Homo sapiens: one gene and its partner. The protein of the gene in region 1 purifies or fractionates together with the protein of each later gene. This does not show direct contact. Each region holds a gene or a part of one and is shown in the gene's direction. Other genes may lie near its edges.

Region 1 (8,219 bases):
ATTCATTCATTTTTTTAAGACTTTACATGTAAAAAATTTGACACATATGTAAAAAATAGTATAATCAACCTCTTCAAACCCAGGAGCCAGCCTCAGCATTATCAATATATTGTCAGCCTTGTTTTATGTCATTCCCTTTTTCCTCTCCACTGGAATATTTTAAAGCAAACCCCAGATATCATCCAATTTATCCATTTATGCTTTAGGATATATCCTAAAAGATGAGGAACTCTTACTGGATATAATCATAACACCATTGTCTTACCTAAGAAAATTATAATTTTTAATATCCAGTTAGAATTTTTGTTTCCCAGTTGTTTAAAAAATCTCTTTTTCTTACCTAGCAATCACATAATGTTCTTTTAAGATGTTAAAACTCAAATGCCAGTCCAGTCTATCCATTGTAAAGTTCCCCATTAATTTTTCACATGATATTTTTAGGATCATTACTTAGAGCTATGTTGCTGTTCCTCATTTTTTAAGTTCAGTAACAAATTGTTATTGAACTCCTGCTTTATGCTTAATGCCAGTAGTAGGGCTGGCATGTACTACATATCCAATAAATCTGCCCCCTTCTCTGCTCCAGCCAGCAAGGTATCTTTTCCACAGATAGCTGCTAAGAAGGTCTAGATTTCCATAACCCCCTGGGAAGTACGGTAATACCCACAAGCATATCTGCAAATCACTATAGCAGAGTTTATCTCCCAGGCCCATCCCACTTCCTCCTCCAGCTCTCCTTGGAGCTAAACATTAAGTCAAAATTTCATCAAGTATTACCTCCAATATAAAATATTTTCTATGGATAACTTTGGGTTGTTCTGTGAAATTTCTGAGTATCAATATTGCCCACCAACATAGATAACACTTCCTGAGAATCTCCTTTGCATAGTTCTATGTGATTACAGTTGGGAGGGAACCTTAATGATTACCTTATCCAACCCTCTCATTTTATAGATTAGGAAATTGGTTTCCAAGGTTATTCAGCTACGTAGAGAGAAATGTGACTAGAAGCTATTTCTTTTCTGTCTTTGTCAATGCTGTTTTCAATATATCTCATTGCCCTTTGTTTTTCCAATATTCATATGTTTCATTTTCTGACATACATTGTTTCTAATGTGCTTTGTATCTTGAGTTCAAATGAGTGTTCCCCCCGCCATATTGCTGTATGAATTTAGATGATTGCCTAAATAAATATATAAATATGTGGGGGGGGGTGTTGTTTATTATTGTTTATATTTTCTATTTTAGATGCAGCAGTTCTTAGGAAGACCTCTTGTGAAAGAATCTTTCTTTAGACCCATACTTACTGTTCCTCAAATGCCTGCAGTTTGCCCGGGAGTCGTCTCTGCAACTGGCCAACCTAGAGCCCCCCTGGTAAAAGCTTTCTTGGTGGAATAGATGTTAATTAGTTTTTTTATTACTCTAGTGGGCTTCCTGAATGAGTATCTTCATTTTGTTCATTCATTTGATATGATAATGATGGGGGTGGTGGTGATAATTGAATGAATACTTCCTGTGAAGCACTGTGCTCAGGGTGTTACATATATTATTTAACTGATACTAGCTTCGTTTTGGGATACAAAGATAAATATGTTTTTATACTAGAGAATCCTTAAAATTATAGTATTGCTTCTGAAATAGGCAACAATGCAGGGTAAATTGACATTTTTAATAGATTTTTTTGGCATGGTTGTTGGGAAGATTGAAAAGCAAAGAAGCCAAGTCACAACAAACTATATTATGGCACAAAGCTAAAGAAAAATTTTATTTCCACACACGTACACACACATAGTAGGACAGTATTTCAAGTGTATCTATAAACAGACTATAAATAGCATCACCTTGAAACATAAACTGTAAAGTTATAAATCTTCCCAGCTACAAATAGCCAGATAAACTTTATCCAAACCTGAAGAAGGAACATATAAATTTGAAATTACCAGAATTATCAGTTGTAATCTTGGTGAAGGTTTTTTATTAAAGGAAAATCTTCCAAAAGAATGATGTTAGATGTAATTAATGAAAATTCTCTAATCTTGATTTTCCTATAAGTATAATTAGGTGCAATTAATTGTTTCTTTTCTTTTCTGCTCCCCATATATTGCTAACAGTTTCCTTTTGAAATACATGGTCAGGTGGACTCTGCTTATTATTGTCGAGGCTACCTGTCTATAAACAAATCTGTATATAGTCCTTAATATGTTAAATAAGTAACACATCTTTTTACTACCATGATATTACAGTGTTAACTCTTGCAATTTGCTTGCCCACCATTCTATAAGAAACTATGATAAAATTTTATTAAAAACATTAAAATACCTTAATCTCCTAATAAGATTACTTTCTGATTCCTGGGGTAAAGCTTGACATAGAAGCAAATTCAGATTTCTGGGAAATATTCTGCTTCCCCTCACTTCTTAGGCTCTGTACAAATTATTACAGTGACTGTTAGTAGTTGCTAGTTTTTCATGAATAATAACCTAATATTTGAAAATAACCCATTAGAGCCTTACATAAAAGGTGCAAGTGGTCATAATTATCTTAGTAATCAGATGAGCACTCCAAAAATACTCTGTTATTATATTATTTAATTAGAATCTTAAGAAGGAACTACCATAAAATATGGAGAAAAGTGATGGTTTCATGGCTGCATGTCACTACAACTTCTGCACCACTTTTGTCTACAACATTGATGAGACATTGGGCAGAGCAGTTCTAGTAGTATTCCCATCTTTATTTGGTTGTTTGAAAAATGTAACTTTACTTTCTCGTTATAAAGGTATATATGCTAATCACAAAATGCGAATAATATAGAAATGTAAGCACATTAGAAAACAAAGTTACTGTGCAATTGATCCCTAAGAAATAATCACTTCTTACGCATTGTAATTTACAGACCTTTCTCCGTGTATACATATGCATTTAAAATTTTTTAATGTAAAAGGAAGTCGTATCATAAATACTGTGCCACAGACTTTTTAAAAAATCATATTTCATGCATATCTCTTATGCCCAGACATACAGTTCTATTTTTAAAAACTTGATTAGATGTGCCATAATTTATTCATTTCTCTATAGATGTAAGGTTTTTTCAGTTTTCACTGTTAAAAGAGAAACAGCAGTAAACAGCCTTCATGTTTTGCTGTACATGTATGTAATTACTGAAGCAAGCATGTCCTATTTTAAAAATAAGTTTAAATATTTATAAACAGTTAGAAATATTGTTTGTATTAGTTAAGAGAAAAACCCTAAAAGGGATTGTGTATGCCAGTATTCTTCTTCATTCTACCCTTTTCTTTGTCCTATTTTTAAAATAAGTTTAAAATAGTTACAAACAATTAGAAATATTAAGAGAAAAACTGTAAAAATTGAATGTGTATGCCAGTACGCTTCTTCATTGTACCCATTTTCTGAGGTATAGGAATGTCACTTCTTAATAATTAAACCTGCTGGGCTATAGCTCTCTGCCTCTTACAGATGACTGGCATAGCCTGGGCTCTGCCAGCGCCTGTGGGAGACGCTGTGCCTCCCAGTGCAGGTCTGCGGAGTGATCCCTCCATCATGAATTGGGAGAGAATTACAGACAGGCTGAAAACTGCCTTTCCACAGCAAACCAGGTACCTTAGTTTTTATTTATTGGTGGGTACAGATCATATTCTCCAGTTTTCATAGCCATAATTGTGGCAATGAAACATTTCAGAGAAACATAACAAACACAAAAAAAGTACAGATGTTTCCTTACCTTGACCTTGGTAAGGAAAAAGAAATTTACCAAGAAGAGACAGTGTTCAATGGTGAACCTCTTCATTAAAAAGTTACTTGTCTTAAATCATGAGAGAATAACTTTAAATTTAGGTATGCTCATTTACTAAAAGTACAACTAGATGTAAACTTACCCAATTTTAATGGCACTAACTGCCATTATTATCTTAACCTATCTCCAAAGTGAATTTTAAGTTGATTGTATGCTATATAAGCCCAAACATCTTTAGGATTTAATTTCCTAATTTCCTTAATTTTGAGGGTCCTTATAGTTTCTTTGTTGGAGAACACACTAAAAATGCAAGAAATCATAACTTTACTGTGCTTTTCACAGTCTACCTTTAGTAGAAAGATATTTAATTATATTCCTACACAAATGAAGTTTCTTTTATCTCAACTCATATCTAAGGAAATAATTCTACTTTTCACAAGTATTTTTATTTCAATACAAACATTTAATATATATACTGGCACACTTCATTATTAAATTATAATTTTATAAATTTCATAATAGTGAATAGATAATAAAATAGAACTCTAGTACAGTTGTTATAAATATGTATAAAAACATTATAAATCAAAGGTAGTTGCATAAGGCTGATGACATGACACTTCATTTGGGAAACAAAAATATTTCATTCTACTTTGTCCCATCAAAACTGTAGATGCAGGCTTTGGATCAATGGATCTTGGGAATTAAAAAGGAACATATCAATTAAAATAATTGTGGGTTCTTTCATTATATAATTAATGTGATTTTTAACCCTTGCTTTCCTGTTCTGTTTAATCTTTGTTTTCTGAGTTTTACGAAAGTACAACTATTAACACTGATAAAGAAGAGAGAAACCAATAGCAACATAGTTAAAAATAAATATGTTATCCTGAGCAAGAAACCACTTGAGAGATGGTATAAAGAACCCAATGCATAAATAAGTGGATAAACTTAATTTTCACCTAGTGAGCTCTCAAAAACGAAGTCTCTTTTTGGAAAGAAAATAAGTACTAAACTTTATCACTCATGAAAACATTAAGTATCATTAATGAACACAATTAGGAGTTTTCCTTTTGGTTTAAGATAAATGCAGATGGACCTGTGATCACTTTTTTAGATCAAAGACCTAAAGAGTCCTGTCTGTATGCTACATATCAATCATGCGATAGGATTTTATATCTCCTTTGGTGGGTACATCCTCAAAGGTACTAAGGAAAATCATTACTGCCCTTTCCTTTCCTTGATCTCTTGCAGAAAGGAACTTACAGATTTCTTACGGAAATTGAAGGATGCTTATGGAAAATCCTTGTCTGAACTGACATTTGATGAAATTGTTTGCAAGATTTCCCAGTTTATTGACCCCAAAAAGTCTCAGGTAAAATGCAAAAACAACCAAAAAACCTGTATCTCTCTGCCCTTAACTCTAGTAGTTAACTGTTTTAAATATCTCCATAACCTGTTCAGAAAATCAGTAACTTGTAATCATATTAAATCATCTATTAACAGTAAATAACAACTTCAACTTAACAAATGATATCAGAAGTCTTTTTGAAATACCTGTTACCTAATCATTCTAGAATAAAACTGACCTCCTTGAAATTTGCTCTAGTTTCTTTGAATGAGTCTAAAGAGGGAGAGATTTTCTAATTTTCTTGAAAGATTTATTTTAATTAAAAGAATGTATAGAGTTATTTTTGTTTTTACCTAGCTCTGAGTATATAAGTATTGCCACCATTTTGTTCAAGATTTCTCACAAATCTGATTATTTACCCTTTTGCTAGTTCTTACTATACCCCGTTCTGTACTAATGTTTCAGCTCTTACTGTTTTAGGATAATTCTGAAAAAATAAACATTATGTTCTTATTTTCAGAGTCAAGGAAAATCAGTGTCAAATGTTAATTGTGTTTCACCTAGTCATTCTCCATCACAGCCTGATGCTGCCCAGCCCCCAAAACCAGCCTGGAGGCCACTCACTTCACAGGGTCCTGCCACATGGGAAGGAGCCAGTAATCCAGTGAGACTGAAATTTTTGATTCTGAACACATTTAGATTTGGGAGAAAACAATGAGCTAAATTTAACATTTTCTGTATTTTCCCTAGGATGAGGAAGAGGAAGAAGAAGAGCCTTGTGTGATCTGTCATGAGAATCTGTCTCCAGAAAATCTTTCAGTTTTGCCTTGCGCTCACAAATTCCATGCTCAGGTAACACTTTAAATTTTCCCATTAATCAGCTAAATGAGATTCATACTGCCTTACTTATTATCATATACATGTATCATTATCCATTGTTGTCTCACAAGTTCCACTGGATATAACTCTGAGCTTTTGGGTACCACACAGAAACATTTATGCTTTTCCCATACATAGCCATGGATTGCATTGTGCTCTCTCAGATCTCCATCCACCCTACAGAAGAAGGGGACAATGTTGAGAGTCAGATGGTACACAGTAGGCAGTTCCTTCGAATAGAACTGGGACAAATGTCGATTGACGTGGTAGTTTAGTGGCAGAACTAGCAACAGCACCACTTGAAATTGACATGCTATAAATACCACATAGTGTCCTTTGTCCATAATTAATGACAGCCCCCTTTCATAAAGCATAAGATTTATCAGTCTCTTCAGGCTTCTATATTTGCTTTTGAAAGATACTCAGGCTTGAGTTTTGATGTTAGAAAAATGTGAGGCATGGTGGCTCACACCTGTAATCCCAGCACTTTAGGAGGCTGAGGTGGGTGGATCATGAGGTCAGGAGATCGAGACCATCCTGGCTAACACTGTGAAACCCCATCTCTACTAAAAATACAGAAACAAAATTAGCCGGGCGTGGTGGCGGGTGCCTGTAGTCCCAGCTACTCAGGAGGCTGAGGCAGGAGAATGGTGTGAACCCAGGAGGTGGTGCTTGCAGTGAGCCGAGATCGGGCCCCTGCACTCCAGCCTGGGTGATAGAGTGAGACTCCATCTCAAAAAAAGAAAAAGAAAAATATGAGGTTGGCATGTCTTTTGTTGATTCTTGGCATTTATATAGATTAAATTCTGGTGTTACTGCCACACAGTTGCTATTGGTATATAATTAATGATCCAAGTCCTCTGTTGCAGAGATGTAATTTGACACAGGAAAAGGTAGTCATAGTAAAGAAAGGCTTTTCAGGGAAGTAAATAATAGCCAGTTCAGTCAAGCCATGTTTGTAAGACATCATTTCAAAGATATGATATGTGGTACCTGGTACAGAATTATATTTTGTATTTGCTCTAATATGAAGATACATCCACAAAATGCCTAATCCCAAAAGTTTTCTAGGAAAGATCCTTAGCCATTGACTTTCCCCTTTGAAGTTTATAAGGTTCTGACAATTTAGGAAATACATGTTTAACAAAACTTATCCTACTCTTTGCCATTGCCCACAAGTAGAAAGCATATAATTCATTCAGGTCATTTTTTATGACTATAGTTAGTGGGCCTATTATATATAGTGCTTATTATTAATCCTCTCTCATCTGACCTGGCCCTCCATTATTTATATACGTAAAAATGATTTGTTTTTGGAGAGTCAGCATTCAAGCAAGTGACTTAACAGATAGTTCATAGCCGAAAATTACTGTCATTATCGCCAAAGAAAACAATCTGAGAAGTGTATTCATGATCTAGGGATTTTAACTGCAAACACCATAAGCATTTCATACCAGGTACTAGTGACTTTTGTATCATTAGTTATGACTTTTTCTGGATTATAAATGAGAACAGTATATAGTAAACCAAAGAATATAGCAAGTTTCTCCAATTTCCTTGTCAGGAAGGATTGCTAGTCATCTTGAAAATTGAGGTTGAAGGAAGCATTTCTAGTAGAATAAACTGGCTAAAAGGTATTGTGCAGTTACCACCTATTTTGTTTAGCAAACCACAGGGAAGGTGCCATGGTTGCAGCAATTGGTTTGACGATCCACAGCGTAAGGCTTTAAAGATCCACCAGAAGACATGTTGGTTGGTAACCCTGATGCATAGAGTGACAACTGCCTCTGCTAGGCTACATCTGAGAGACTGACATAAATCTTTTTGCTCCTTAGTGCATTAGACCATGGTTGATGCAACAGGGGACATGTCCAACGTGCAGACTCCACGTTTTGCTACCAGAAGAATTCCCTGGTCACCCCAGCCGGCAGTTGCCCAAGATCTGATACAAGGTCGGGGTGTCTATGCAAAGGAAGCTCAGTTTTCTTTTATTATGAGCTGCTTGTTTGAGTGGTGTAAAACTATGTGCTCTTCAATATAGTGCTAAAGAAGCCAGCTAATTTTATCAAAGCAGCAGCCAAAGAAGTCAGGACAAATCTTCAGGACTTGTGAAATGAACTGAAAGAGCTTGAAGCAGATGGAATTTTAATAGTTACACTATATATGCTCTTAGTAGGTTTTTTTCTTGTAGTGGAAACATAACTGTTAGCATATTTCTTAGGATGTTTTTTCTTG
Region 2 (8,219 bases), on another chromosome or scaffold:
AAAGGATAGTAGTACATACTGGCTAGAAAGGAATTGAGGGAAGAAGGGATTCCAAATAAAGGGAACTTTGATCCAGGTTGGTAGGGAGAGCAGGAGTGCTTGAGACAGAGAGGGAAAAATAGAACCCGTAGCATGGTTGTAGTTAAAATGGAATTAGTCGTAAGAGATGGCAGGAGTTTATGGAAAGGGCTAGAAACTGTGCTAAAGAGTTTGTTTTATCCTGAAACGGAGAACTGTTAAAAACCTTTAAAGTGCATTGGCCTTTTGATTGTCTTTCCCAAGTAATGACAATCATCATTTTGTTCTGGTGTATTATATTTTTCCTTCCTGCCTTTAATTATTTATTTGTGCTTTCATCGATCAAAAATTTCCTTTGCACTAGGCACTATACAAGGTACTGGAGATATAATGGAGAGACAGCCAAATGAGTTTCCCAAGCAAATAGGGATGTAAGCCATGAAGAGAATAAAACAGAGTTCTGTGATGATTGGAGGGTTGGTGCTATATAGGCTAGGTGATGAGAGATGTCACCTCTTTGAGCTGAGATGAATAACAAGATGGTGCTATCTATGGTAAGAGCTGGAGGCAGAGGAAACAGCAAATACAAGTCTTGAGTTGGTAATGAACTTGTGTTTGTGGAATCAAAGACCGATGGCTAGAGTCTGGTGAGGGATGGAGGGGAGTTAAGGGAAATGAGTCTAACAGCAGGATTCAGAATCACAGGACATTATGGTCCATGACATAGTTTAGGTTTTACTCTGATTGCTGTGGCAGACCAGTGGAGGGGCTTAAGCAGGGGGATGAGGTGCCAAGATTTGCATATTTAAGCTTACTACTCTATGTAGAGAATGACTGTTTTATGGAGAATAGATTGTAGCGGGCAAGAGCAGAAGGAGAAAAACCATCTGGATTTACTTCACTAGTCTAGGTAAGAGATGATGGAGGCTTATTCTCGAAAGTGCTAGCCGAAGTCAAGATAAGGACAGAGGTTGATAGATTTGGAATATATTTTGGAGGTAGAATTGATAGGACTGGGTTGGCTGTGGGACATAGGGAAAGGAAGAAATCAGGAAATACCCTAAGATTCATGTTAATGCAGTTGTATAGTTGGTAATGCTATTTATTTGCTAAAGTGGGGGTGACCTGATGGATGTCACCATGGGGAGTGGTGGGAATCAGAAATTGTGTTTTGGATGTTAGATTTAAGACATGAATTAGACATCAAAGTGGACGTTAGATTAGGCAGTTGGATAAAGTAGTTTGCAACTCTAGAGAGACCGGTGCTGAAGCTTGCAGTGGTATTTGAATCCATGAAGCCATGGGACTAGATGAGTTCACAGAGAGAGAATGATGGTAAAGAAGAGCACAGAGGCCGTGAGGTCTGAGCCCTGGACAAGCTCAACATTTAGAGTTTGAGTAAGGGAAGAAAGATCCTACAGTGAGGAAACAGGAAAACCAGAGTGTGGTAGGAGACAGAAGAGAATGTTTAAAGGAGGATGGTGGTCAACTGTAGTGAATTCTGCTTGGAAGTAAAGATTAGGATGGAAAAGGAATCACAGAAGCAGCAGAGAGGTCATTGTTGAGCTCAACATGCAGTTTCAGTGGCATGGTTAGCTTGGAAGCTGACAGAAGTAGGTTTAGGAGAGAACGGGTTGTGAGAAAGTGGGGAAAGACTCACTAGAAAATTTTTGAGAAACATTTGTAAAGATTTATTTTAACTATTTTTTAAAACCCCATGTATACATACAGCTATTTGAAGGGTAGAGGGACTCGAAATGAATTTTCATAACATCCATATTCTAGAACTCCTAGATTTGAGCTTGTAAAGTCTCATATTTCTCTGTCTTGACATTTATGTCATCCAACAAAAATTGGTGACAACGCTAAATAAGGTAGGGACATAACGGATTTTTTTTTTTTTTTTTTAAGAGACAGGGTCTGACTCTGTCCTCCAGGCTGGAGTGCAGTGGCGCCATCATGGCTCACTGCAGCCTCCACCTCCTGGGTTCAAGTGATCCTCCCACCTCAGTCTCCCAAGTAGCTGGGACAGCACCGCCACACCTAGTTCATTTTTAAATGTGTTTGTAGAGATTGGTTTCACCATGTTACCAATGGTCCCGAACTTCTGGCTGGTCCTAAACTCCTAGGCTCAAGTGATCCTCCTGCCTCTGCCTCATCCTCCTAAAGTGCTGAGATTATAGGCATGAGACACTGCACCCAGCCATAATTGATTTTTTTTTTTTTTTTTTTTTTTTGAGATGGAATCTTGCTCTTTTGCCCAGGCTGGAGTGCAATGGCATGATCTCGGCTCACTGCAGCCTTGGCCTCCTGGGTTCAAGTGATTCTCCTGCCTCAGCCTCCCAAGTAGCTGGGACTACAGGTGCGTGCCATCATGCCCAGCTAATATTTTTTATTTTTTTATTTTTTGTATTTTTAATAGAGACAAGGTTTCACCATATTAGCCAGGATGGTCTTGATCTTCTGACCTCGTGAACCGCCCACCTCGCCCTCCCAAAGTGCTTGGGTTACAGGCGTGAGCACTTTTTTTTGAGACAGAGTCTGGCTCTGTTGCCCGGGCTGGAGTGCAGTGGCACGATCTTGGCTCACTGCAACCTCTGCCTCCCAGGTTCAAACGATTCTCCTGCCTCAGCCTCCTGAGTAGCTGGGATTACAGGCGCCCGCCACCACACCCAGCTAATTTTTTGTATTTTTGGTAGAGATGGGGGTCTCACCATGTTGGTCAGGCTGGTCTCGAACTCCTGACCTCAAGTGATCCAGCTGCCTCAGCCTTCCAAAGTGCTGGGATTACAGGTGTGAGCCACTGCACCCAGCCCATAATTGATTTTTAGGATGTCACTTGGTGGTGTAAATAAGAAGCTTCCAGAGGGTATAAACTCTAGCAGAGTATCTAGCAGCTATTTATTTTTCTTTCATAAATTTCATTTCAGTATGTGAAAAATCCTTTTTCCCCCATAGTTTTATGATTTTTTTTTTACTTTAGATGTTGTTATCATAGATTCTAGCTTTCCTTATATAATACAAATATATATTATTGATTCTAAGTCAAATTTTTTTAGAATTTTAATATCTGACAGTTGGGATGTGACTTAGAAATAAGTGGTGTCTTAAATTAGATGATATGCAGTGTGATGTGAATATATAAAATATGTGATGTCAGTGAATATATGTGTATATATACATGCACGTGCATACATTGATTGGGAGCTGGCCTACTATTAGATAGATTTGAAATTGGTATTCACGAGTAGACTAGTTTCCTAAAGTGTATGGGATTATCATAGATCTGCTGTTGGACCCCTGTATGTTTTGCTGTGATTATCAGTGTTTTCCTTAGAGACCATTGGGGCAAAAGAGATAGGAGTGAAAGGAAAACTCAACTAGCACAATTTTAGCCTCTTATTTATTTTGATGTCCTTTCTTCAATGAATATTTATGGTAAATGTAATAACTCTTTTACAAGAATTTAAATGTGTGTTTTCATTTGAAGTCTTCCCCCATTTCCTTTCTTTACCTCTTAAGAACAGCATTCACGTGGCTACAACAGTAGGATTTTGTATGAGAGCCCATAGTTTTGTTGTCAGTATTAACGATCCCACTTTTTTTCCCTCAAGGAAATGCCTTCTGGTTCCTTTGCCACTATTGTTTAGACGTCTTATTTTGGATTTTTCTTCTAAAACTTTCCTGGAATGAAAAACTGTTGTGGTTGAAAAGATCTTTATTTTATCTGGTATATTTATCCCTTGTAAGTCCAACTAGAATTCCACATTTTAAATATTATTCTTATAGGGCATTTTACATTGAATAATGATGAATGTTTTTAGCCTTACATAAAAATATGTATTTGTACAGTTGTGCAGCTATTCAGTACAGGTTGCAGTTTCATAGAAATTCATTTCTAGTTTGGTTGTCAGGTGAGAATGTTGCTATAGCTTAGGTAGTACTACTTTCTTCACATCTTTATAAATGTGTTTTAGGTAACTACTGTCAAGCACAGGGTTGCAGAATATATTTAATATAGATTTTTTATATGGTGTTCTTATGATGTAAACTTATAGCTTTGTCTTGGAATATTTTATTCAGATACATTTTCAGAACCTCTTTTCTTGATCACCACTGTTATTTCTCTGATCTTTGGAAGACCAAATTCAAAGTATATAGAATCTTCAGTACATTAGACTATTTTGGAAGGTAGGGAATTCATTTCAGTAGCTGGTTATAAAGCTTAAGTTTTCTTGTTTTTATTTTCATTCTTTCCATATCCAGAAAAGAAATCAATAAAATTCAGTCTTTGTAGCAGCATAGAATTCCATCATTTGTAGTATTGATCCTAATTTTGATCAGTAGTTTATGAAGTTGGTTCTTGCTGTATTTCTGTATCCTGGGATACCACTTATAGAGGATTATGATGCATAAGTAGAACGTAATTTAAAAATAATATTGGAGAAGGAAAGTAGTGGTAAGGAGTGGTCCTCATCAGATCTGAGTTTGAGGTTTTGTTTGGTTTAATATAATCTTCTATTTTATATTTAACACACTTCACCAGAATTCTTTATTTTCATTTAATACTGATGCTCATGATTCTACAACTGCTTTTATAGTTCCGTTTGAGTTCAGCAGTATTCTGAGGTGCAAAGTCAGGTTTAGCTTTAAATCTTATTTAAAAAGTGTTAGGCTTTCATAAGCTTATGCAGTCTCACCTTGTATATTCCCAGCTATCAGTAATGTTTTTTCCTGGATTTTCTTCTCAGCAACCCGATAGCAGAAGGGTCAACTCTTCTGTTGGATTTTCTGTTTTGCAGCATACAAGCAATGACCCATATTGCTTTGTGGAATTTTATGAACACAGAGATGCAGCTGCTGCATTAGCTGCTATGAATGGGAGAAAAATTTTGGGAAAGGTAAGATAATAGGATGATGGCACCTTATGAGTACATATATTTGCATGTCAAACTAGTTTGTATTCTTTCTAGGCAAATTTTTGAGCAGATATTCGGCTGCTGAGTGATGGTTTTGCTTTATTCAGCTTAGTGCTTTTACAAAAATAACCCTGCTTGATAAATGATTTAATAAGTGGTAAGTGTTGTAACTCATGACATGCCTAATAATTTTATTAAATATAATCTTTATTTTTAGGAGGTCAAAGTAAACTGGGCAACCACACCAAGTAGCCAGAAAAAAGATACTTCCAGTAAGTACTCCTGCTGCATTTTACTGTGGAAGAGTTCTGAAATTATCCAGGAGGCATTACCAGCTTAAATAGGTTTTTTTTTCCTCCTCTAGAGTTGCCTTAAAAAGGTTTTAGTGGCTGACTTCTTAAGTATTTGATTACCAAATGCTCTGATTTCAGATCACTTCCATGTGTTTGTTGGGGATTTGAGTCCAGAAATTACAACAGAAGATATCAAATCAGCATTTGCCCCCTTTGGTAAAATATCGTAAGTATCATAATCAGTACTACACTCAGTCATGATAGGCAGAATTGTATATGATTAACTTGTAATTGAATTAAGATTTTCTTTCTCTAGTTAGTATGGTTTTGTTTTGTTTCTTATTTTTCATTTATTTATTTTGGTTTGTTTTGAGTAGTGGATGTTGTTGAAAATGTTAATGTCATTTCAGTGTCTTGGGGTCTCGTTTTCATCTAATCCTGTGTATAATATGTTAAAAAAAATTTAAGTGATTCTGTTTGTTATCTTTGAAGCAGATGTTTGAATGGTAAAACTTATAAAGTCTAGCTTTTTGTCATATGTTTTCAAAATTTGATGGTTTAGGATAATGAGTTAATCAAAAGTAAATGTGATCTATACTGTGTAAGAGTTCAATAACTTTTATAGGAGGAATTTATAAATGGGGGAGAGTAGGTAAATCCTTGGATATATTGTGATTAAATTGGAAATGTTCATGTTTTATTATGATAAATGTGTTTTTGATATTTTAGCTATAAGTGAAAAGTACTATTATACTATTAAAATGTTTCAATGTATGAGTCATAAATGTGGGATTAATTAGATGTTTTTGTTAGTGATATTTGATTCTACTAGTTAAGAGGCAAATGTGGTTTGATTTTTAACAAATTTATGCTCAGATTTTACTGTTGTTACTTGGTAAAAAATATATTGGAAAACTAAAAATGGTTATGAATTGTAGAAAATGTTTATCATAATTTATCTTTCTGATTAAAATCAGTTTATTTTGTATATTTCCTGTAGATTTAAATTAAACATCTTAGTACTACTTTACAGGAAAGTGTTTCAACTAAGAACAACAATATTTTCTCTATACAATTTGTTGTTCTATAGATTTAATTTCTTTAAAAGATGTAATTCTTAACTTTCTGTTTTGATATTTGCTTTGCTTTTTAATCTAAATGTGGTAAGTAGTACTATTTTAAAAATCAATATAAAAATAATACAGGTTGCTGTTTTTCAATCTTTATTTATACCTGAGACCTGCAGTTTTTCTTAAGTCCAAGTCACAATTAAAAGTAATAGCATTCTGGTTATTTTGCAGAATTGCTCATAAGAATGGACAGGATCTTGAAGGCTAACTGCAAGGAACTGTGCACACTGGAACTCAGTTGTAGATTTTTTTTCTCATTTCTATTTATTCTTATTATACATTATTTATATATACATATTTTAGTATTTACATTTTAACATTCTATATTCAGTGGAGTTCTATATTTCCAATCATTTAACTTACTCACTAAAATTTCTGTGTAAATTTGTTGTTTTCGTACTGGTGTGCTTAGCATTGTTGTTAGTTTTTTATTCTCCTTTCTTAAATTTCTGAAAATGTCAATTTTTCAAAATTTACAGCTGCCCAAACTCCAAAATGATGGTAGAGAATTGACCAAGAAAAATAAAGAAATCTGTTAACAGGCCATGTATGCCTTTTTAATTCCTATTTTTTCCTCTTTTTCAATTTTTTAATATTTCATATATTTTGTATCACTAGGCAGAAGACATTTAACTATTTAGAGATTGCATGGTAAAGTAGTTAGTATTGTTACAGTAATTTATAGAATCAGTAAACCTTAGAGGACACTAGTAAATAGAATATTAGAAAGGGAAACTGTTGTTCCTATTAATCTTCAAATTTGAGCATTTAGTTTAGAAAGCACAGGCTATTTGATTAGGTTGCATGTTTATTACATGTTTTTGTCCTACTGCTTTTTTCTAACAGGTAAAGAAGCATTAGGGAGAGTTCAGGAATGGTTGTAGTTAATTAGGGCTAACTGGAATTTTATTTTAAAAATGCTCACAATACAGTGTGTGTGGTTCCTTTTAGTTTTTATTTTGAGGGTGGCTCTTACTTCCCTCATTTAGCTGTGCTTCTTTTCACAGGGATGCCCGGGTAGTTAAAGACATGGCAACTGGAAAATCCAAAGGCTATGGTTTTGTATCTTTTTATAACAAACTGGTACGTTCTTCCATCTCAATTTATATTTTTTAATACTAAATTTAGTCATTAGTTACTTAATGTATTGAATCTGAAACTTGAATATACTTGAATGTTAACTACAAACACAACTTTTATGTAATGTTATGTATGTTTTAATAATAGAGTATAATTTCATTCCTCTTTCATAAACTCGAAAATAAATAGCTAGAAAAAGAATGATTATACTATAAGGAAGATTATTAAAATTGTGTTTGTACATTGGTAAAGGTCAGATGGATTTAGAAGTAAAGCCCAAGTCTAGGACAGATGAGCTAATCTGAGAATTTAGAGGTTAGGTAAATTATATTCAGTTTTAACCATGAAAATCTCAGTTTTAACTCTACCTTTTAAATTATTATTCATACTCTTATATAACTGGGATGTGAATGACTACAACAAATTATGTAAATAAAAATTTAAGCAATTCATCTTGATTTTTGCATATATTCTTTGTAAAAGGGGTACCAAAGTAAGCATTTGCATTAACTGTAACATTAAATAATAAAGTGGGCTTTGATTTTAAAGCAGTTTCAATAACTTAAATCAATGTTTTGTTTTGTTTTGTTTTGTTTTTTTGAGATAGAGTCTCGCTCTGTTGCCCAGGCTGGAGTCCAGTGGTGCCATCTCAGCCCACTGCAACCTCCACCTCCCGGGTTCAAGCGATCGCGCTGCCTCAGCCTCCTGAGTAGCTGGGATTACAAGCATGTGCCACCACACCCAGCTCATTTTTATATTTTTGGTAGAGACATGGTTTC

The links. Proteins that work in one complex are often made in the same cells at the same time.
Region 2: the proteins of DZIP3 (region 1) and TIAL1 purify together in Homo sapiens (affinity purification with mass spectrometry; 3 studies listed by BioGRID and IntAct, with this or other methods). This does not show direct contact.

The regions. Positions count from the first base shown.
Region 1 is NC_000003.12:108,682,968-108,691,186, forward strand, and holds part of DZIP3 (E3 ubiquitin-protein ligase DZIP3), read left to right. Parts: intron 1-1,248; coding exon 1,249-1,374; intron 1,375-3,460; coding exon of another isoform or gene 3,461-3,477; coding exon 3,478-3,617; intron 3,618-5,008; coding exon 5,009-5,129; intron 5,130-5,625; coding exon 5,626-5,769; intron 5,770-5,855; coding exon 5,856-5,957; intron 5,958-7,819; coding exon 7,820-7,930; 3' UTR 7,931-7,936; intron 7,937-8,219. UniProt on the Homo sapiens protein: E3 Ubiquitin ligase proteins mediate ubiquitination and subsequent proteasomal degradation of target proteins.
Region 2 is NC_000010.11:119,579,159-119,587,377, reverse strand, and holds part of TIAL1 (nucleolysin TIAR), read left to right. Parts: intron 1-4,769; coding exon of another isoform or gene 4,770-4,820; coding exon 4,821-4,919; intron 4,920-5,154; coding exon 5,155-5,209; intron 5,210-5,368; coding exon 5,369-5,456; intron 5,457-6,531; exon of another isoform or gene 6,532-6,905; coding exon of another isoform or gene 6,906-6,907; intron 6,908-7,367; coding exon 7,368-7,443; intron 7,444-8,219. UniProt on the Homo sapiens protein: RNA-binding protein involved in alternative pre-RNA splicing and in cytoplasmic stress granules formation. Shows a preference for uridine-rich RNAs.